3 linked regions of the Homo sapiens genome follow. The protein of the gene in region 2 interacts with the protein of the main gene of each other region in a pairwise test. Each region holds a gene or a part of one and is shown on either strand. Other genes may lie near its edges.

Region 1 (7,661 bases), on a different chromosome or scaffold from region 2:
ACTATATGCCTCTAGGTGCTTACTTATTTCTTATGATGAAAGCATTTCTGTTAAAATGGGGAGTACCTAAGTGATCATATATTTCATTTATGTAATGGAAGTTGATGGATAGCTAATGGCCCTTCCAGTGTAAAGCGGCCATCATTAAGGTAACATTATCAGAAACAGAATCATTTTTCATGTAATACAGCTTTTAGGGACAGTGTCAACTTATGAGTAAAGCATGCTGTTACAGGTAGGACCCGGATAGTCCAGGCTGAAAGATGTGGTATAAACTTTGATGCATATAATAGATGCATAGCAAATATTTGATGAGTGAATGAATGAATGTAATGAATGTATTCCCTTTTTTTTTGGAGTGCAGTGCTGTGATGATGTCTCACTGCATCCTCTACTGCCTGGGCTCAAGTGATTTTCCCACGTCAGCCTTCTGAGAAGCTGGGACCACAGGTGTGTGCCACCATGCCTGGCTAACTTTTTTTTTTATTTATAGAGATGAGGTTTCCCTGTGTTTCCCAGGCTGGTCTCCTGGAACTCCTGGGTTCAGGGGATCCTCCCATGTCAGCCTCCCAAAGTGTTGAGATTACAGGCATGAGCCATCATGCCCTGCCCGGAATGCATTCTTTAAAAAAAAAAAAAAAGCTTTATTGAGGTATAATTTACATACAATAAAATTCACCAATTTTAAGTGTACAGTTTGACAAATTTTGACACATGTATACAGTTGTATAATTACCACCACTGTGTTTATTTTTTTAAACTGTGTGTTATCTTTTAGGAATTGGGTAGCAGATTTATCCCTGGGAATGTTATGAGGTTTCTATGCTCAGATTCAATACTGTGAGATCAGAATGAATATTAGAGTGTTAATGTGCCAACTTGGGAGGAAATAGGAAAACCTTCGGTATTTAATGGTGAGGTAAATAGGAAGAATAAGGAGAGACATTTATTGGATTAGGGGAAAGATAAATAAATTCAGGAGGAAGTAGATTTTAGTTACTTTTAAGACAGAGGATACATTTTGGGGAAAAAGTTACCAAAAGATTTAAGGAGTTGAACTTTTTATTTTTTTTCTTTTGAAATGGTAGCTCCTGAAATATAAAACTTAACATCTTTGGCTGTGCTTAAGAAGCGCTTAACAAATTATGGTTGTTCAAATAATACTTAAGGGTGGGGATGGTGTAAAGTGGTTGAAGGCCTTGCCCTTCCACCTATGACAGAATATCCTTAGTGTTGATCTCTAACTTGTTTTAAGTAATATTCCACAAAGGGAAGAATACATTAGGTAGCAATTGTGGCTTGCGGGGAAGATTGTTTCTTCCTTTTCATAATTTCTCAAGTCACTGAACTTCTCCCAGTATGCTTTAGCTCAAGTCTCTGTCTCTTAGAAAATGCCTGGAACCTGTGCTAGTGAGCTTCTAGAAGAAGCCCCATTTCTACCTTCTCTTTATTTTTTGATTTTATCTTTATTCATTCTGTTTCTGTATGGTGACTGTGTTTTTTTTTTTTGAGACGGTGTCTCACTGTGTCACCCAGGCTGAAGTGCAGTGGTGTGATCTTGGCTCACTGCAAGCTCCGCCTCCCGGGTTCACGCCATTCTGCCTCAGCCTCCCGAGTAGCTGGGACTACAGGCACCCGCCACCATGCCCGGCTAATTTTTTGTATTTTTAGTAGAGATGGCATTTCACCGCGTTAGCCAGGATGGTCTCGATCTCCTGACCTCGTGATCCGCCCGCTTCGGCCTCCCAAAGTGCTGGGATTAGAGGCGTGAGCCACCGCGCCCAGCCGGTGACTATTTTATAAGCCCTTCTCTCACCCATGGATTTGTCTGAGAATGGAAACTTTTTTTTTTTGCTCTGCCCGAAGCAAAGGAATTCTTGTTAAATCCACCATTGGTCCTCCGTATACCATTAGGAAATAATAATTAAAATAACCCTTTAGATCTACTCAAAGGGGTGACTATAATAGTGTTCCCTCCTTGAGCGGGGGACATGCTAATCTTCTCTGTATTATTCCAGTTTTAGTATTTGTGCTGCAGAAGTGACTACTCTGTTCACCTTTGAAAAAATAATAACTCTATGAGGTAGTCATTATCCTTATTTTATAAATGAGGGAACTGAGCTCAGAGCAGTTAACTGCCAGAGCAAGTGAGGGGCAGACCATTGATTCGAGCTCAGGTATGATTGATGCTCAGGTTTGGGGTCTATGTCATTACACTCTCAGTTGTATGGGAGTGGAGGGTCAAGGGAAGAGCTTGAAAATACCATATTAAAATATGAGCCACAACATGACAAGCATTGCTAACCTTTTTAGGCATTGCTGTTGTCATCTATGACTTTCTTAATTTCTGGAGATTCCTCCTTATGTTCTAAGGAATTGATAGTTAATCCTTTAGTATTGCACAACTTCCTTCCCAGACTCAGCATTTTTTTTTTTTTTTTTTTTAAGAGACGGGATCTCACTCTTTCTCTCGATCTGGAGTATAGTGGCAGTCATAGCTCACAGCAGCCTTGAACTCCTGGGCTTAGGCAGTTCTCCTTCCTCAGCCTCCGATTAGCTGGGACTACAAGTGTGCACCACCATGCCCAGCTAATTAAGAAACATTTTTTTTTTTTTTGTAGAGATAGGGTTTTGCTTTGTTGCCCAGGCTGGTCTTGAACTCCTGGGCTCAAGCGATTCTCCCACCTTGGCCTCCCAGAGTGTTGGGATTACAAGCATGAGTGGCACCTGGCCCCAACATGCTTTTTTTTTTTTTTTTTTTTTGAGAGAGTCTCACCCTGTCACCCAGGCTGGAGTGAAGTGGTGTGATCTCGGCTCATTGCAACTTCCACCTCCCGGGTTCAAACGATTCTTCTCCCTCAGCCTCCCAAGTAGCTGGGAGTACAGGTGCCTGCCACTACACCCAGCTAATTTTTGTATTTTTAGTAGAGACAGGGTTTTACCATGTTGGCCAGGCTGGTCTCGAGCTGCTGACCTCGTGATCCGCCTGCCTCGGCCTCCAAAAGTGCTGGGATTACAGGTGTGAGCCACCGCACCCAGCCTTATTCTTTATTAACATGGTACTTTGTATCACTGGCTGTTTGAATTACTCCTCTGAAAGCTTCTACCCGGGTAATCTTTCATTCAAGACCTGCCGTATTTGCATGTGCCCCTTTATACCGTTTGTTTCTTTATTTTTACAAAAAAATTTAAAAATATGGACTGCTTTATGAATTAGCATGTCATCCTTGTGCAGGGCACATACTAATCTTCCCTGTACCATTCCAATTTTAGTATTTGTGTTGTGGAAGTGAGCACTCTATTCCTGTTTTTATCTGGACAAAATAGTATTTTAAAAATGTATTATGGGCTGGGCTAACATGGTGAAACCCCGTGGCTACTAAAAATACAAAAAATTAGCCAGGCATGGTGGCAGGCACCTGTAGTCCCAGCTACTCGGGAGGCTGAGGCAGGAGAATGGCGAGAACCCAGGAGGCAGAGCTTGCAGTGAGCCGAGATCACGCCACTGCACTCCAGCCTGGGCAACAGAGCGAGACTCCGTCTCAAAAAAAAAAAAAATAAAAGTATATTACGTTATTAAAAACTTTATGATTGAAGTATATAATACATATACAGAAAAATGCATGTAAAAGTGGAATTTGATGTTTTTTTCCCACAAACTGAATATACCCATGTAAGCAGCACCTAGATCTAGATCAAGAAACAGCGTTACCAGTACCTAGAAGCCCCTATCCAGTTCCCTTTCAGTTCCTGTCTCCCCTCTACCACCCAGGGTAATCACCATCCTGACTTCTGACAGCATAGATTATTTTGCTCTTTTTTTGTACTTTTGTAAAAATTGAATCATATAGTATATATTGTTTGTGGTCTGGCTCCTTTTATTTAACACTAATGTGACCGTGCAAAAATTTTTAGTGGTTTTTAGATTTGGAATAAAATTCAAATTTCAGCTTTTTTTTTTTTTTTTTTTTTTTTTTGAGACAGTCTCGTTCTGTCGCCCAGGCTGGAGTGCAGTGGCGCGATCTCAGCTCACTGCAACCTCCACCTCCTGGGTTCAAGCCGTTCTCCGCCTCAGCCTCCCAAGTAGCTGGGATTAAAGGTGCCTACCACCACGCCTGGCTAATTTTCGTGTTTTTAGTAGAGACGGAGTTTCACCATGTTATGTTGGCCAGGCTGGCCATGAACTCCTGACCTCTTGATCCACTCACCTCAGCCTCCCAAGGTGCTGGGATTACAGGCGTGAGCCACTGTGCCTGGCCATTTCAGTTCTTTATTTTGACCTATAATGCCCTGTATAGCCCGTCTCCTGGCTACTTTTCGGGTAGGCAATTGGCATTTTATGCCAATCTCATTGCCCATTATGCCTCTGTTACGCTAACTTCTTATTTTTATTCTTATTTTATTTAATTTTTAGAGATGGGGTCTTACAATATTGCTCAGGCTGGTCTCAAACTCCTGGCCTCAAGCTGTCCTTTGGCCTCCAGAGTAGCTGAGATTACAGGCATGAGCCACTGGCCTTATTTATTTTTAAACTCAGTGAGCTGTTTCCTACCTCAGGGCCTTTGTATGCATGGCTCTGTCTTCCTCGAACACTTCTTTTCCCTGCTCTTTGCATGGCTGCCTTCATGCCTGAGCTTATGTATAAATATCAGGGATACTTTTTCTCATCATCGTGTCTTGCTAGTCCTTTCCCATTATTCCCTATTACTGGCTTCTGTTGCCTCCTTTCATAGCACCTATTGCAATTTATGATTATATATCTGCGTGCATGATTATTATGTCTTCCCTGCTAGATTCCATGAAAGCAGAGAACTCATCTGTTTTGTTCTCCAGTGTATCTCTAGTGCCTAACACAGTGACTGACATAGAGTAGGTATTTAATAAATATTTAATGGCCATATTCCCAATTCAGCACCTTTGGTCCCATTATCTTTTGTCCTTTCCTCTTATGCTGTTTAACTATTTAAATCTTTTCCACCCCTCAAGACTGAGCTCAGTTCTCCCTCTTTGAAGTCTATCATGGTTTTGCAACAGTTAATCTTTCTTCTCTAAAATTTTATAGCATTTATTGCCAGTACCACCTTGTGTTCATGGAAAATCACACTATCACATATCTTATTTTACCTAGTTGTATCAAAAGCTTCTTATTTTCTCAGAAATCTTGTAGCTTGTTATGCCAGTACCCCTCATATTTTTGGTTAACTTGACCAGCTTCTATTAATATCTTAATTAGCTAATTTGACTGGAAGCTTCTCGATCAGAAGCTGTTTTAGCTAATGCCCTCCTCAGTTATTTTCACTGGCACATAGTAGGTCTTTAGTAGAGTTTTTGATGACCAATGATATTTATGTATAGGTAGCAATTTTAATTTCTTAAGCTTATTAACTTGGATTCTTTTTATTAGAATCCTGCTTAGTATTTTCTCTAATCTAAAGGCCGGGAGTGCACCAACTGCTTCCGGCGATATAGAGACTATTAGGGTGTGAAAGTACAGGAGTCCAGTCCTAATGCCACAAAGCAGATTCTCCTTTGGAACTTGTCACTGGTGTAGAATTAACTATGCAGAGTTCCTTCTTAGAAAAAATGCTTTATCAGTGCTTGTTTAATGTTCTCAGATTGGAATTACTAACAGAAACAAGACACTAGGTAGTACTTTATTTGAATTTTCTGTTGACTAACATTTTATTTTGATGTCAACAAAGCAAATCTTGAGCCAATTAAATCTGCTTAAAGCTGCTTTGTCTGATGGGTAAGCTCTCTCAGTAGTTACTCTTCCTCTTGTGTTAAAGGCAGAAGAATGTTCTATAAGCCAATTTAAATGCAAATTTAAATTAGTAGCAACTTAGTTGATTTAACTCAGTACATATTTCAAATTAAGTGGTAAATTTAAATTAGTTTTTAGGAGGTACCTACTGTGTATTTTAAATCAGTGATTATTTTGGCTTTTCTGATGAAACTACATCAGAATATTACAGGGTAATGTAGTAATTGGTTTGTTTTTGTTTTTGTTTTTTGAGACGGAATTTTACCCTTGTTGCCCATGCTGGAGTGCAGTGGCGTGATCTTGGCTCACTGCAACCTCCACCTCTTGGGTTCAAGCGATTCTTCTGTCTCAGCCTCCCGAGTAGCTGGAACTACAGGCGCATGCCACCATGCCCAGCTCATTTTTGTATTTTTAGTAGAGACAGGGGTTTCACCATGTTGGCCAGGCTGGTCTCGAACTCCTGACCTCAAGTAATCCGCCTGCCTTGGCTTCCCAAAGTGTTGGGATTACAGGCATGAGCCACCGCGTCTGGCGTGATACTGATATTATTAGCCATTGGCTATGTGACAGGCACTATCCTAAGCATTTTTCATACATTAGTTTATTTACTCATTCACTCAACAAATATTTATTGAGTACCTATCATGTTTCAAGCTCATAATCTCATGTATTCTTCACCACACCCATGAAGTAAGTATATAGTTTATTATTTTAACCCCATTTTACAGATGAGGAACTGGTACACACAGAAGCTAGATATCCAGTGTCACAAGCTGTTGAGGGTCAGATACTGAGGTTTTTTAAAAGAATGCCAGTTAGTGACATCTTTGGCATGAATTAATTCTATGCTAGATTTTTATCTTTGGGAGGGGAGCAGTAATCAAATTTTTTTTTTTGAGACAGAGTCTCGCTCTGTAGCCCAGGCTGGAGTGCAGTGGTGTGATCTCGGCTCACTGCAAGCTCTGCCTCCCGGGTTCACGCCATTCTCCTGCCTCAGCCTCCCGAGTAGCTGGGACTACAGGTGCCCGCCACCACGCCTGGCTAATTTTTTTGTATTTTTAGTAGAGATGGGGTTTCACCATGTTAGCCAGGATGGTCTCAATCTCCTGACCTCGTGATCCGCCCTCCTCAGCCTCCCAAAGTGCTGGGGTTACAGACCTGAGCCACCGTGCCTGGCCAGTAATCAAATTTTGAAGTCTCTGGTAAACTGTAGTCAAAATGATTAGAACAGAATGTGATAAGCTAAACTGAGATTACTTCTTCTCTTACCCCCAACCCATCTCTTTTTTTTTTTTTTTTTGAGATGGAGTCTTGCTCTGTCAGCTCACTGCAACCTCTGTCTCCCGGGTTCAAGGGCTTCTCCTGCCTCAGCCCCCTGAATAGCTGGGATTACAGGCACCTGCCACCACAGCTGGTGAATTTTTGTATTTTTAGTAGAGACGGTGTTTCACCATGTTGGCCAGGCTAGTCTTGAACTCCTGGCCTCAGGTAATCTGCCCACCTCCGCCTCCCAAAGTGCTGGGATTAAACGCATGAGCCACCATGCCTGGACCCAACCCTTTTTTTTTTTTTTTTTTTTTTTTTTTTTTGAGACAGAGTCTTGCTCTTGCCACTCAGGTCAGGGTGCAATGGCACGATCTCGGCTCACTGCAACCTCCATCTCCCAGGTTCAAGTGATTCTCCTGCCTCAGCCTCTCAAGTGGCTGGGATTACAGGCGCCTGCCACCATGCCTGGCTAATTTTTGTATTTTTAGTAGGCAGGGTTTTGCCATGTTGGCCAGGCTGGTCTCGAACTCCTGACCGCGTGATCTGCCTGCCTTGGCCTTCCAAAGTGCTGGGATTACAGGCGTGAGCCACTGCGCCTAGCCTAACCCATCTTTTACAAGAAAAATTTCAC
Region 2 (7,762 bases):
TATTTTGAGACAGAATTTTGCTTGGCCTGGTTGGTCTCGAACTCCTGACCTCAAGTGATCTGCCCGCCTCGGCCTCCCAAAGTGCTGGGAATTATAGGCGTGAGCCACTGTGCTGACCTAATTTTTACTTTTTTTGTAGTAATGGGGTCTCACTATGTTGCTCAGGCTGGTCTCCTTCCCGGGCTCAAGCGATCCTTCTGCCTCAGCCTCCCAAAGTGCTGGGATTTCAGGTGTGAGCGCCAATAGCTTAGAAAACTATTTGTTTTTCTAAATAGTGCCTAAGATGTGAGGAGGCCTAATCTTGTCAGTGCTGATAAGGTTAACATGATCATTTTCCGCCTTTTACTCTGTCCTCAGGAAGGCAGGTGGGGACTGTGAAGTAGGGCTGTGGGGTTCTCGGCAAAGGCGGGGGCAGCTCTGGCCCTGCATTGTCAAGGCCAAGCCTCAGCTGAGGTTTTGCCCACATGTAGGTATGCCTGAGGTTTGGTTTGGCTGTCGCATTTGAATTGGGGCTGTAACTGACGCTGTTTCCAGCAGTCAGGGTAACGGATTACTGTGTTTCGAGAATCTCACTCTATCGCCCAGGATGGAGTGCAGTGTTGTGATCTTGGCTCACTATAGCCTCTGCCTCCGGATTCAAGTGCTCAAGCAATTCTTGTGCTTCAGCCTCCCGAGTAGCTGGAATTACAGGCGCCTATCACCAGGTCTGTGTAATTTTTGTATATTTAGGTGAGATGGGGTTTCACCATGTTGGCCAGGCTGGTCTCAAGCTCGACCGTAAGAGATCAGCCCGCCTCAGCCTCCCAAAGTGCTGGGGTTACAGGTGTGAGCCACCATACCGGGTCCTATTCTTTTTTAGTAGTGCAAACGTTAAGATGGTATGTGGAAGCTGAATTTTTTTTTTTTTTTGAGACAGTCTTTGCTCTGTCACCCAGGCTGGAGTGCAGTGGCTCAATCTTGGCTCACTGCAAGCTCCGCCTCCCGGGTTCACGCCATTCTCCTGCCTCAGCCTCCCGAGTAGCCGGGACTACAGGCGCCCGCCACCATGCCCGGCTAATTTTTTGTATTTATTAGTAGAGACAGGGTTTCACCGTGTTAGCCAGGATAGTCTCGATCTCCTGACCTCGTGATCCACCCGCCTCGGCCTCCCAAAGTGCTGGGAATTATAGGCGTGAGCCACTGTGCTGACCTAATTTTTACTTTTTTTGTAGTAATGGGGTCTCACTATGTTGCTCAGGCTGGTCTCCTTCCCGGGCTCAAGCGATCCTTCTGCCTCAGCCTCCCAAAGTGCTGGGATTTCAGGTGTGAGCGCCAATAGCTTAGAAAACTATTTGTTTTTCTAAATAGTGCCTAAGATGTGAGGAGGCCTAATCTTGTCAGTGCTGATAAGGTTAACATGATCATTTTCCGCCTTTTACTCTGTCCTCAGGAAGGCAGGTGGGGACTGTGAAGTAGGGCTGTGGGGTTCTCGGCAAAGGCGGGGGCAGCTCTGGCCCTGCATTGTCAAGGCCAAGCCTCAGCTGAGGTTTTGCCCACATGTAGGTATGCCTGAGGTTTGGTTTGGCTGTCGCATTTGAATTGGGGCTGTAACTGACGCTGTTTCCAGCAGTCAGGGTAACGGATTACTGTGTTTCGAGAATCTCACTCTATCGCCCAGGATGGAGTGCAGTGTTGTGATCTTGGCTCACTATAGCCTCTGCCTCCGGATTCAAGTGCTCAAGCAATTCTTGTGCTTCAGCCTCCCGAGTAGCTGGAATTACAGGCGCCTATCACCAGGTCTGTGTAATTTTTGTATATTTAGGTGAGATGGGGTTTCACCATGTTGGCCAGGCTGGTCTCAAGCTCGACCGTAAGAGATCAGCCCGCCTCAGCCTCCCAAAGTGCTGGGGTTACAGGTGTGAGCCACCATACCGGGTCCTATTCTTTTTTAGTAGTGCAAACGTTAAGATGGTATGTGGAAGCTGAATTTTTTTTTTTTTTTGAGACAGTCTTTGCTCTGTCACCCAGGCTGGAGTGCAGTGGCTCAATCTTGGCTCACTGCAAGCTCCGCCTCCCGGGTTCACGCCATTCTCCTGCCTCAGCCTCCCGAGTAGCCGGGACTACAGGCACCCGCCACCATGCCCGGCTAATTTTTTGTATTTATTAGTAGAGACAGGGTTTCACCGTGTTAGCCAGGATGGTCTTGATGTCCTGACTTCGTGATCTGCCCACCGTGGCCTCCCAAAATGCTGGAATTACAGGCGTTAGCCACCATGCCCTGCCACTTTTTTTTCTTTGAGATGGAGTCTCCCTCCGTCACCCAGGCTGTAGTATAGTGGCATGATCTCGGCTCGCTGCAACCTCCACCTCCTGGGTTCAAGCAATTCTCCTGCGCTAGCCTCCCGAGTAGCTGGGATTACAGGCATGTGCCACCAGGCCTGGCTAACTTTTGTATTTTTAGTAGAGACAGGGTTTCACCATGTTGAGCAGGCTGGTCTTGAACTCCTACTTCAAGTGACCTGCCCGCCTTGGCTGCCCAAGCTGTTGGGATTACGGGCGTGAGCCACCACACCTGGCCAACCCATTGTACGTTGAAAATGTAAATAAAAAATATAAAGGCCGGCTTGTGGCTCACGTCTGTAATCGCAGCACTTTGAGAGGCCGAGGCCGGCGGATCACAGATATTGAGACCATCCTGGCCAACATGGTGAAACCCTGCGTCTACTAAAAATACAAAAATCAGCTGGGAGTGGTGGCGTGCACCTGTAGTCCCAGCTACTCGGGAGGCTGAGGCAGGAGAATCGCTTGAACCCAGGAGGCAGAGATTGCAGTGAGCCCAGATCTCACCACTGCGTTCCAGCCTGGACGATAGAAGGAGACTGTCTCAAAAAAAAAAAAAAAAAAAAAAAAAGGCTGGGCAAGGTGGCTCATGCCTGTAATTCCTGCACTTTGGGAGGCCGAGGCGGGCGGATCAGGAGGTCAGGAGATCGAGACCATCCTGGCTAACACGGTGAAACCCTGTCTCTACTAATAAATACAAAAAATTAGCTGGGCGTGGTGACGGGCGCCTGTAGTCCCAGCTATTCGGGAGGCTGAGGCAGGAGAATGGCGTGAACCTGGGAGGTGGAGCTTGCAGTGAGCCGAGATTGTGCCAGTGTACTCCAGCCTGGGTGACAGAGCGAGACTCCGTCTCAAAATAATAATAAAAAATGAATTTAGGCCGGGCGCAATGGCTCACGCCTGTAATCTCAGCACTTTGGAAAGCTGAGGTGCCGGATCACCTGAGCTTAGGAGTTCGAGACCAGCCTGGGCAACATGGTGAAACCCCGTCTCTACTAAAAATACAAAAATTAGCCGGGCGTGGTGATGGGCACCTGTAATCCCAGCTACTTGGGAGGCTGAGGCACGAGAATCGTTTGAACCCGGGAGGTGGAGGTTGCAGTGAGCTGGATACCGCCGCTGCACTCCTGCCTGGGTGACAGAGTGAGACCCTGTCTCAAAAAATAAAATTAAAAAAAAAACAAACCTGATACCTCCCAGTGTTGTCAGTTGGCACATACTATGTCTCAATAAAATGCTTGCTGTTACCCTCTATTTTGAGACGAAGAGGGACCCTGTGTATGACAACCCCAGATTGACCTCATTTGCATTTTAAGTATTTAGAATGTGGGTAACAGTTTTCAGTGGAGGAAACTGCCACATAGGGACTAAAGCAGTCCCAGGGTCCACTCCAGGAGCTGCCAGGCGCGCTCGGCCACAGGTGAGCCATCCATTCGCCCAACCGGTGCTCCAGGAAGGCAGGAAGCGGGATGCAGGGCTTCAGCCTCACTTCTCGCAGCTTCAGCACCTGGGTCAGAGGAGAGGCGGGCGGGGCGATGAAGGGACCGGAAGTCGGCCTTTTTTCCGTCCGCTTGACCAGCGTCGACTGCAGCCAATGAAATCAGGGATGGCGAGTGTTCAGCCAGTGGTGAGGCTGCATCCGGGTGTGGGTGCCGAAAAGGCAGCTGGGGGCGGGACGTCGAGGTGCGGCACGAGCGGCGGGCGCACCGGCCAATAGGCGGCGGGGTTCGTTTCCCGGGGGTGGGCACTGGCGGGTGCGGTGACGTCGGCGCAGGCGCGTCGCGGCGGCAGGGGCGCGGGGCTTCTGGAGGCGGCGGCGGTGGCCAGCGCGGCGGCGCCGGCCGTATTCTCCGGGCTGCGGAGGGTAAAGAGCGGGCTCGGGCCGAGGCTGGAGGGCTGGGTGGGGCCAGAGCGGCGCTTCGGGGGCCCGCGGAGGACGAGGGAGGGAGAGAATCTGAGGAGCTGGTAGGTTTGGGGACCCATCTGGGTGACCGGGCCGGGGAAAGGGCTCGGCCGGGCGTGCGAGGGGCGTAGCGGCCCCAGGGATGCTGGAGCGGAGCCTTAGGGATGGGCAAGGCCTTGGGGGCGGGGGGAGGTTCTGCAAAGGGAGCCACTGGGGTCTGCCTAGGGGCTTGTGCGGAGATTGCGGGCGAGAAGGGGCAGAGGACGGTGGAGGAGACTCAGATGGGGCCCTTTTTGGCGGCCCGTTTTGGGGGGTAGGGGAGACGGCGGTTGGGGGACTTTGATACATGGAGCGTGGAGGAAGAGGTTAATCTTGCGAGGACAGTGGAGGTCAGCGGGGGAGGGAGGCAAAGTGGGCTTTCAGGAGCGTGGAAGGCGTCGTCCGGTTCTTGGAAAATTCAGAATTGGAGGGAGTCAGAGATGGTTGGGGGTGGGCGGGGGTGTTCCATCGATGAGGGTCTTAAGAGACCTGCCGAGGGCAAGGACCAGGAGGGGTTAAGGTAGTAACTTGGGAATTTTGATCGGAATGGCAGCACTTTGGGAGGCCTGGGACGATCGCTTGAGCCTTGGAGTTCCAGGCTGCAGTGAGCCATGATTGCACCACTGCACTCCAGCCAGGGCGACAGAGCGAGACTCCTTCTCAAAAAACAACAACACCAACAACAAAAGAAGTAGACTTGAGAACTTCGTTAAGACATTGGCCAGGGAGTAAGGTAGCCCTGGGATTTGAGGTTGAGGAGAACGTGCAGGAATGGTGGGGGATTTTGGCTGAGCAGGTTGAGAGAAGTCTAGGAGTGAGAGGCAAAAAAAGACGCAGGCAGCGTCGGGGAAATCAGAATTATGTGTCTGGAGAGAGTTTTGCGGGGTGAAGGTGGCCCAGTGGGGCTGTTACCAAACTTTTGAGTGGTTATGGGGCTCTAAGAGGTGACATGACAGGACCCAGCCCAGTAAACACAGCACCTCTTTTTGTCGAGTTTGGAGCTTCAGAGTGGAGAGGTGGGAGGCTTGTGTTTGCTGGACAGGTCTGTCCATTAATCTAGGAGAAAAGGGTGGTGTCTCAGTTCCTCACTTCTGTCTTTCCCTGTCTTCTCCAGGGTTGCCATTAGGGGACTCCTGAGGTCCTATCTCCAGGCTGCGGTGACTGCACTTTCCCTGGAGTGGAAGCTGCTGGAAGGCGGACCGGCCGCCATGTCCACGTTCAGGCAGGAGGACGTGGAGGACCATTATGAGATGGGGGAGGAGCTGGGCAGGTGAGCTGTCTGCCCGCACGGCTGGGCTCCAGGGATAGGAGAGAGGCGCTGTGGGGTTTTCTGAACAGCAGCTCTCCTTTCCTGTTCTTTATCCTGTATGCTGAGAAGGAATGAGTCAGTATCATGCGGTGGGGGAACGAATTTGGGCCGTGGAGTCAGACAGCCCCGGCTGTGAATTCCTGCTTGGGAATCCTCTGTGTGTTTCCTGTGGGGAGAAAAGTAATTGAGCCGTTACAGCAGCCAAGACCGTGCCTGGCATGGGGCACCAGAGCAACAGATGCCAGCTGCTTTTGTTATTAAAAGATGTGTCTTCTGCCTGGGCAACATAGCAAGACTCCATCCCTACAAAAAATAAAAATGAAAAAAAATTAACCAGGTGTGGTAGCTCATGCCTGTAGTCCCAGCTACTAGGGAAGCTGAGACGGGAGGATGGCTTGAGCCCAGGAGTTGGAGGAGGCTGCAGTGAGCTATGATCGTGCCACTGCACTGTAGCCTGGGCAACAGAGTGAAACCCCATTTATTTAAAAAAAAAAAAATCTCCCTGTGTTAATCCTCTTTTGTGGGAGGCACTTTAGTTTTTTTGCCCAGCTCTTGGATGTTTAAAGTGGGGGGAGGGAGGGGCGTGTCTCCCAGCTGGGCCCAAACCTCGGTCAATTGTTTAACATGCTTGTGGGAAAAAGCAGAGGTTTCCTCTTCCAGGGAGGCAGCTGATTTCCTGCCTGTCTGGGCCTTGGAGGGTCCCCCTGGGGCCCCACCCCCTCCAGACTAGCCAGGCACCACTAGGCCCTGCCTCCTTTTGTAGAGCCTCCAGCCTTATTTGGTGAGTTTGCTACTGGCCAGCCTCCCTGGAGCCTCCCCATGATGTCACCAGAAGGGAATGTAAATAAGTGAGCTCTGTGTCAGGCTAGGGAGAGTGCTGCAGGCTCTTTTGGGATCCTGAGGTCCCTCCTTCAGGAATTTCCTCGTTAGTGGCAGAGAAAGCATGCTCCCTCCTCCCCCTTCTCATGCTTCAGTGTTGACCCCTCCTGCTAGGGGTCGTTTGGCAAAAGTCAGCAAAATTCAGCCAAATTTCTTTTAACTCGCCGATTTCACCTCTAGGAATTAATTCATTGGAAAACTGTACATACATGGATGGAATGACTTAAGACTGGGGTAGTTGCTAGAACGTTTACCAGAATAACAGCCTTTTTTTTTTTTCCTTGACACTATCTCATTCTGTCGCCCAGGCTGGAGTGCAGTGATGCGATCTCGACTCATTGCAGCCTCGGCCTCCAGCCTAGCCTCCCGAGTAGCTGGGATTACAGGAGCCCGCCACCACCCCTGGCTAATTTTTGTATTTTTAGTAGAGACAGGATTTCACCATGTTGGCCAGGCTGGTCTCGAACTACTGACCTCAGGTGATTCACCTGCCTCGGCCTCCCAAAGTGCTGGGATCACAGGCGTGAGCCACCGCACCCCGCTGGGAACAGCAGCCTCTTAAATGGCCTTCCCCAAACCACTGCATCAGGGCTGGAATAGGATGCAGCTTGTAAAAAGAACCAGGCAGGGCCAGGTGCGGCGGCTTCCGCCTGTAATTCTAGCGCTTTGGGAGGCCAAGGCGGGAGGATCGCTTGAGCCCAGGACTTCAAGACTAGCCTGGGCAACATAAGTTGACCCCCATCTCTCAAACAAACAGAAATTCATAATTTTAAAAAAAGTATTTAGCCTTCTGTTTTTGCCGTGAAGCCTTGGAGGTCTGGTGTGTATTTCATGTCGCAGTTTTTCTCGGGACTGGCCACACCTCACGGGTTTGACAGCTCTGGGTGGCCAGTGTCTGCTGTTCTGACGGCACTGCTTCAGGTAGTGGTCTGGAACATTCTCAGAGATACATGAAGTGCAAGATGAAGGCCCAGAATGTAGCAATTTTTGTTTGTTTGTTTGAGACGGTGTCTGGCTCTGTTGCCGAGACTGGAGTGCAGTGGTGCCATCTTGGCTCACTGCAATCTTCGCCTCCCGGGTTCAAGTGATTCTCCTGCTTCAGCCTTCCAAGTAGCTGGAATTACAGGCGCCCACCAACGTGCTCAGCTAATTTTTGTATTTTTAGTAGAGACGGGGTTTTGCCATGTTGGCCAGGCTGGTCTTGAACTCCTGACCTCAAATGATCTGCCCGCCTCTGCCTCCCAAAGTGCTGGGATTACAGGTGTGAGCCACTGTGCCTGGCCCCAGCCCACACTTTTTTTTTGAGACGGAGT
Region 3 (7,661 bases), on a different chromosome or scaffold from region 2:
TGAGCTGAGATCATGCCACTGCACTCCAGCCTGAGTGACTGAGTGAGACCCTGAAAAAAGAAAAGAAAAGAAAGAAAGAAAGGAAAGAAAGAAGAAAGAAAAAGGCTGTGGTAGTCCTGTTTATCTCATCGGGTGTCTTTTATTCCAGAAATAGTGTTGGTCTTACATCAGAGAGGGCTTGAGTATTTTGCAGATAAATGTGCCCATTGTGACATCTGAGAGGTTTTTCTGGTGTTCTCTTCCCAATAACAGCCATTACAGCAGCAGATCATCAGACTCCACCAAGAGCTTGGGAGACAGAAGTCTCTGTGGGCTGATGTTCATGGAAAACTCCGGAGTCATATAGATGCTTTGAGGGAGCAGAACATGGAGCTCCGAGAAAAGCTGAGAGCTCTGCAGCTGCAGCGGTGGAAAGCCAGGAAGAAATCTGCAGCGTCCCCACACGCGGGGCAAGAATCGCACACTCTGGTACCAAAAGCGCATTTATGTTTTTGTACCGTTTGCGTTATGTAAAAATAGCGTCCCCATAAAGATGTGGGCTTTATTGCTGAATGACGCGGTATCACTCACGCTCCGGGTGGTGGGAGGGGTTGCTATCTTTCCATCAACTCCATTTCCCGTAAGTAATGATTAATAAGAACTGGATACATCAGGCCTCTCACCTGGCACTCCAGCAGACAGAAGCATTGCCGCCCCCAGGCCGTGTGTCTCAAGTCCAGAATTCTAAGACATCTCATGATGTCTCAGGACAACAGCAGCAAACCCTTACTGTGGACTTTACATGGGCTAGGTACGGAGCTTTACGGTCTTACTCTCTATGACGACCCTATGAAATGGATCCTATTACTAACCCCATCGTGGCCACGGGCTGGAGAACGTAGAGCTGGGATTTGAACCCAGGGTGACTCCAGAGCCAGCTCAGTAGCCTGGTGTCCTTCTGTTCATCCTCTAGGACAGCTGTGTAGAATGCAATAGAGACCTGTTGAAACGGGAAAAGTTCCCTTGTCCCCCTCGCAGGGTGTGCGATGGGGGTGTGGCTCGCTTCTTTGGTTCCCCACTGCTCAAACCTCTAGGGGAGTGTACAGACCGGCAGGCTATGGGGCTCTGACCCCACGGCAGTGTCTGGGGGTGAATGTTTCCAGCTGAAGCCCCAGAGGGTGTGTGTTACAGTGCGGGAGCTCTTTCAGTTTACCCCTCCGTAGGCAGCTTGTGTTTATCAGCTCAATTAGACCCTCTGCCTTATCACAAGGACAGAGGGCTTTCTGTATCCTGGGTTCTTGCCTTGGTGTACCTGAAAAATCAGATCACACATGGGCTTGGAGGATGGGTGCAAGGTTTTTTATTGAGTGGTGATACCTGTCAGCAGATGGGGGAGCCAGAAGGGAGATGGAGTGGGAAGGCAGTTTTCCCCTTGGGAGTTGGGCTGCCCAGTGACCGGGCTCTCCCCTGACCACCCCAAGCAAACTCCGTGTCATTCCGCCAGTCGATGGCCTGCTGGCGTCTGCTGTGTCTGCTGGTGTGCTCTTCTGCCGGTGTGTTCTTCTCGACATCCAGCCGCTTGGTCTCTGCCCGCTAGGGTCTTGGGGTTTTTATAGGCATAGGATGGGAGTGTGGCAGGCCACGGTGGTCTTGGGAAATGCAACATTTGGGCACAAAAGCAGAAATGCGTAGGTCCATGGGCACAGGCCCAGGGGTCGAGCCCTAGCCAGGGACCCCGTTCTTCTCCACCCAGGACTTTCCTGCCCCCATCCTGTATCACTAACCTGCTCTATCCCGAACGAAGAACCAGCATTCTCATGCTGAAGTAGTGGGTGCCTCCCAGCACCAGCCTGCCTCTACAGAACACTGAGCTTTCACGTTTGATCACACCGCTCAAAGAACCAGCCTAAGAGAGTGTGAATGTGGCCAGTGTTATCACTGCCTTGTCTGGGTTCTGTTTCCTGCATATGGATCTAAATAACTTGAATCATTAAAATTATACATACAGGTAACAACACATGAAACCACATGAACACCCTCCAAACGTAAGTGGGGATATTTCTTAGTGGATTAAGAAAAGTACTAACATTTCCTAGCTGCATTTATTGTGTGAACTTTTAAATCGGTACTTCCAGGACTTAGAATATTTCCGATACAGCACAGTGATTACAACACACACACACACACACACACACACACACACACACACACAGGCACCCACCGAATACATTCCAGAGGAGACTGCTCTGTGGTTTGTTCTCCAAGCACAGCAAAAACAGCCACAGCTGGGCGCGGTGGCTCACACCTGTAATCCCAGCACTTTGGGAGGCCGAGGCAGGTGGATCGTGAGGTCAGGAGATTGAGACCATCCTGGCTAACACGGTGAAACCCCGTCTCTACTAAAAATACAAAAACATTAGCCAGGTGTGGTGGCGGGTGCCTATAGTCCCAGCTACTCGGGAGGCTGAGGCTGGAGAATGGCCTGAATCAGGGAGGTGGAGCTTGCAGTGAGCCGAGATCGCGCCACTGCACTCCAGCCTGGGGGACAGAGCAAGACTCCGTCTGAAAAAAACAAAACAAACAAACAAAAAAAACTGCCACAAGTTCCTCTACAAGAAATTACGGGAAATCTTGGAAGTTATTCCCACTCTTCGGGAGCTCTGCGAGAGCTTTGTTTCCATGGAGATGGCTTCTGCTGCCTCAGAAAGAAAGTGAGTTTAGCCTCTCAGCACAGCAAAGCGCCGAGTCCTTCTGCGGAAGGAAGAGCAGAAGCTGGGCAGGCTGTTCCTCTGTCAGAGGAAGAGTGGGGGAAATTGCCACAAATACTGGCCGGGATTGTCCACCTTCTGTGGGGAGAACCCAAGAAGACTCACAGGGATTTTTTTCCCTACATATATTGTATGCCAGTTCCTAAAAAATAGTATCTACTGCCCCATTTGGGTCATTGTATAACAATTACCCTAAGAGTCAATGAAGTCTTATTCAGTCTTCACATGCCCTGCAGTTTTGATCATTCTCTTATTTTGAGATTAGAGCTTGGTGAATTTCCAAATATTTTTCCATTCTGTGCATTGCACTGGTCACCGTGGGGCTATTTATAAGAACAGGATGTACGCTCACAAGAGCATACCTGATTTGAAGAAACAGGATGGGATATGTGAATCCCACACTTTAAATATGCGAAGGTGTATCTGTGTGTAGTCGCCGTTTTAGGGACTGAATATCTAAAAGGCTGAGACTCGAGCACCCACAGAACGCGGGCATGGCTGTGTGGGTGAGCCACTCTGGATCTGATATTAAGGGTTCGTTCATAGCAACCCTCTCCCCTTCTCATTCCCTTCTCCTCCTCAGAGGGCAGAACGGTGAATAATTTAGCATTCCAGACCTAATATACCTCATCCCACCTGAAGGATCACCCTGTTCCAGGTCAGTCTGCTGATAACAGGGAAAGTTGGGAATTTGCATTTTGGATCTTAGACAAGTTGTAGAGACAACACTAGAAGTAGTATCACATTTTCTTCCTCCGTTAACACACTCCCGGTTGAAGACACAGGAGCCTAAAGGAAGATATGTTGGGGATTGTTTGTTCTGTAGCCTTTGGGATCCTGTGATCATTTTGAAACAAGGAACCACAATAAGAAACACAAAGCAAACATCGGCTCCACAAAGGTTCCTTCACAAACGCTTGGTGAGGGTTTCTGTTCTTATCAACATATTAGGGGGAAAACCCAGTCCAAGTCCCCCTACCTTGTACCCTATTTTTTTCTAGGACATTCCAATTATTCTTCATTGTATTAAAATTTGAATTTATTTTACCTTCGAAAATGTGAAGAATTTCCCTGCATTTTGTCTTTTAGGCATTGGAACCTGCTTTTGGAAAAATTTCACCTCTGTCAGCTGATGAAGAGACAATACCCAAATACGCTGGCCACAAGAATCAGAGTGCCACTCTCCTGGGACAAAGATCGTCATCTAACAATTCAGCTCCTCCAAAGGTGACCCTTTGTGCTTATCATCTGTAAAGAGAAGCAGAGGTTCTGTACCCAAACACACACATCCCATCAGCTCCTCACCACACAATTTCACCTCCCTGGGTGAGCATGGTGCTCCCTGGAGTCCTGTGTTCTTCCAAGGACACGGGTACATGCCTTTCAAACAAGATCCTAACCCTTAGCACTTCTTGCTGTGGAGCAGATTCCAAGTCCTCCCGGCTGCTTCCCTCTGAGTACACTCACAGCAGCAAGCGTCTGGCTGGGGCCGAGGGGACTTGGGGGCTTTGTTTCCGTGGGTGCAGGCTGCGGAGGTGATGTGTGTGGCACTGTCTCCACCCGTGAGTCTGAGGGCTCGCAGCCTCCCGTGCTCCCTGCTTCTGCACTGCGGTCTTGCACCTGCTGCTTGTCGGCGTGGACTCCTCTGAACAGGGGTGGCGCTGTTAGCTTGGGAGCCACAGTACAGGATGCTATTTTGTCTCTTGTTGGGAATAGGCCCCCAGATCTGGCCATAAACTGGCCCCAAAACTGGCCACAAACAAAATCTCTGCAGCACTGTGACATGTTCGTGATGGCCATGATGCCCACGCTGAAGGTTGTGGGTTTACCAGAATGATGGCAAGGAACACCTGGCCCACCCAGGGTGGAAAACCGCTTAAAGGCGTTCTTAAACCACAAACAGTAGCATGAGCGATCTGTGCCTTAAGGACATGTTTCTGCTGTGGATATCTAGCCAGAGCCCATCCCTTTGTTTTGGCCCATCCCTTTGTTTCCCATAAGGAATACTTTTAGTTAATCTATAATCTATAGAAACAATTTATCACTGGCTTGCTGTCAATAAATATGTGGGTAAATCTCTGTTCACGGCTCTCAGCTCTGAAGGCTGTGAGTGCCCTGATTTCCCACTCCACATGCTATACTTCCGTGCGTATGTCTTTAATTCCTCTAGCACTGCTGGGTTAGGGTCTTCCTGACCGAGCTGGTCTCGGCAGTCTCTATCACATTTTTCTTTGTTAAAATTAGCTCCTCTTTAGAACATTCTCCCAGCCAGTGTGTCTCTTCCTGTCCCAGCTTTGTGTCACCCTCATACTCAGGAAGCAAATCTCGTGAGTCCACAGCCAGCAACTGATACTGGGTTGATGTGGATGGAGAAGGCGCCCCCAACTCCTGAAGATGATTTATCCCCTCGCATTCTTTCCCAAAGCAACTGCTGAGCAGATAACACTTTATTCCCTGAAGGAAGATCAGAAATCTACTCCAAGCATTTGTCACAAGTAGGAAAAGAGCCTTTTCAGATCCTATGAGTACAAAACATCGTAAGTCCCAGGGTGGACTGCACAGGCCCAGCCTCCTGTGAGACGCGGACTTCTCTCATGCTCCATCATTGACCTGAGTTAATCACAGGCATGCGGGGCAATGTACGAGTAAATAGATAACTGAATGGGTGGCTTATCCACGCCTTGAAACCATCAATTGTTAAATAGTGCAAAATGTAGAAAATTATTTTTATTATGCATTTTTGAATTGAGTTTCAAGCACTTTATTTCACTGTTGACTTTACAATATCAGCCATGTATTGGAATCCCAAATTTCACAAGAGCGTGGGCTGTAAAATGGGGAATGAGAGACACTAAGTGTGGATACCTCATGTGTCCTTCTGTAGGAAGGGGGAGTAGAATCATCTACATTCTGTGATAGCTGGTATGATGTGTTGCTTAACATTTAAAAATAATATAATTGTTACTAATGCAAAAATATTCCCACATTTGTTTTCAGCCAATGAGTTTAAAGATAGAAAGAATTAGCTCGTGGAAAACACCACCACAGGAAAATAGAGATAAAAATCTTTCCAGGAGACGTCAAGACAGAAGAGCAACACCTACTGGAAGGCCAACTCCCTGTGCAGAGAGACGGGGGGGTGTCTGAAGATGGAAAGGTGGCCTCGGACACCTGTGTCACTCTACACTGGCCCCTTGGAAAATTCAGATTCAGATAAAGTTCCACTTAGGTCTAATAAAAGTACTCAATTTGTTATTCAAAATAGACCTAGTAATTTATTAAACTAATTATGTTTCTATAGATAAAAACTTGAAGTTCTTCAGACATGTCTCTAATGCTATAAAAGCAAACAACTTGGATTGGGTTTTATAAATCAGTTGCTTTCCTGAGCTCTGTAGTTGGTATATTTCTGCAGAGTCTTTAAAAAAATTAACCCACCTTGTAGTATGGAGTGTCGGGCTGTTGGGTGAGCCCTGGGGTCTTGCTGGAAATCGAGGATGGCTGAAGATGGCTTTGTGCTCCCAGCCTTTGGGCTCAAGGCATTGCCCGCTCCAGGGACCTTGTGACAAGGCGGGCCTGTGACTGTCATTGCCCCAGGCTATGCATCCATCTTCCCGAAGTCTGCAAAACTTGAGTGGCAGAAAATCACCAGTGCAGGCTTCCCAGGCCGCCATGCTGCAGGAGCAGATGGCAGCAGCCGGAGGAGCTGGTGAGCAGAGTTGGGGACTCCTGTTTCTATGCTCCCCGTGAAATGCGGGGCTTTCTCGTGGATACGCGTGAGCAGAACATCTTACTATGGCAAGGACATGTCCTTCCTGGAGCTGCCTAATTTGTGGCCACTTTTTGTCTGATTCCCTCGTTGGGTCCTCACCTGTGAGACTTGCCAACACCCCCAGCCCTCCACCCCACACACAGCCCACATGCCGGTCTCCAGGGGCCGTGACTGGAGATTCCGAATCCTAGCGGTCACTTCCCTCTGAGCACACTCCCAGCAGAAGGCGTGTGGCTGGGGCTAGATGCACTTGGGTGCTTTGTTCCCCTTTCTCCATTTGCCAGCCCATGGCATTGCTGCCACCCTGATGGAGCGCCCTCTCATCTGGCACCTTCCTGGCCTCTTTCCCAGGCCCCAGTTCTGTCCATGCAGCTGTGGGTGCTTCCTGCATTGCGGGTCTCACGGGGAGGAGACGAGAGTGCCCCTGGTTGAGTCAGGAAAGAATTCTATCTTCACGTCGCTGCCAGCAAATGACCACAGCAGCTTCACGACCTCTGCAGGAACCTATCTTGGTAAAGAAACGGGGCCTATGTGGTGGCCGAGCCTCAGGTGTGGCCGAGCTTCAGGTGTGGCCCTTATGCACAGCACAGCCCAAGCCTGTGGGCACCACTCGCCCTGGGCTGCCTGGCACCTGGACTCCTTCCCATCCTTGGCCGAGGTCTGCGTGGCCCTTCAGGGCCGAATCTGACACTGTCTTCCTCCTGAGTCTGCCCCCCGGGCTTCCTGCCCACCCCCAGGCTGTTTCATGGCCTCTGCAGGGAGCTTCGTAGAGGTGAGGCTGGTGCCATCTGTCTGCTTCAGACCACCTCAGGCTCTGCGTGCCCTCACAGTCCCCTCTGCACTTCTCTGTGGGGCAGGGAAGCCCTTCCCATCAGGTCTGCTCCAGCCTGGCTACCTTGTTCCTGCTGTCCCCTCCCCTTCAGGCCCCCGGACAAGACTTCAGTGTACTTGCTGGTGCCGGGCAGAATGGGGGACCTTGCCTCTCACACACACCTGCTAGTATCTCCGCAACCTCCAGGCATCATCTCAGCTGACAGTGACGCCATCCTGGGGAAGCTCCCCTGACTCCTGGCTCTCCTGGAAGCCTGTGGTGCTCCTTCACAATGGCCCGTGGCCCTTCATAGGTCCCGTAAGCCAGTGTC

The links.
Region 1: the proteins of DAPK3 (region 2) and LUZP1 interact in binary tests that used the Homo sapiens proteins (3 or more experiments, as listed by UniProt).
Region 3: the proteins of DAPK3 (region 2) and TCP10L interact in binary tests that used the Homo sapiens proteins (3 or more experiments, as listed by UniProt).

The regions. Positions count from the first base shown.
Region 1 is NC_000001.11:23,158,340-23,166,000, reverse strand, and holds part of LUZP1 (leucine zipper protein 1), read left to right. Parts: intron 1-7,661.
Region 2 is NC_000019.10:3,967,443-3,975,204, reverse strand, and holds the start of DAPK3 (death-associated protein kinase 3), read left to right. Parts: upstream 1-4,105; 5' UTR 4,106-4,284; intron 4,285-5,375; 5' UTR 5,376-5,469; coding exon 5,470-5,531; intron 5,532-7,762. UniProt on the Homo sapiens protein: Serine/threonine kinase which is involved in the regulation of apoptosis, autophagy, transcription, translation and actin cytoskeleton reorganization. Involved in the regulation of smooth muscle contraction.
Region 3 is NC_000021.9:32,575,007-32,582,667, reverse strand, and holds part of TCP10L (T-complex protein 10A homolog 1), read left to right. Parts: intron 1-252; coding exon 253-468; intron 469-3,836; coding exon 3,837-3,974; intron 3,975-5,744; coding exon 5,745-5,894; 3' UTR 5,895-7,661. Other genes in the region: CFAP298-TCP10L (uncharacterized protein LOC110091775), read left to right, coding at 253-468, 3,837-3,974, 5,745-5,894. UniProt on the Homo sapiens protein: May be involved in transcriptional regulation. Has in vitro transcription inhibition activity. Acts as a tumor suppressor in hepatocellular carcinoma (HCC) cells.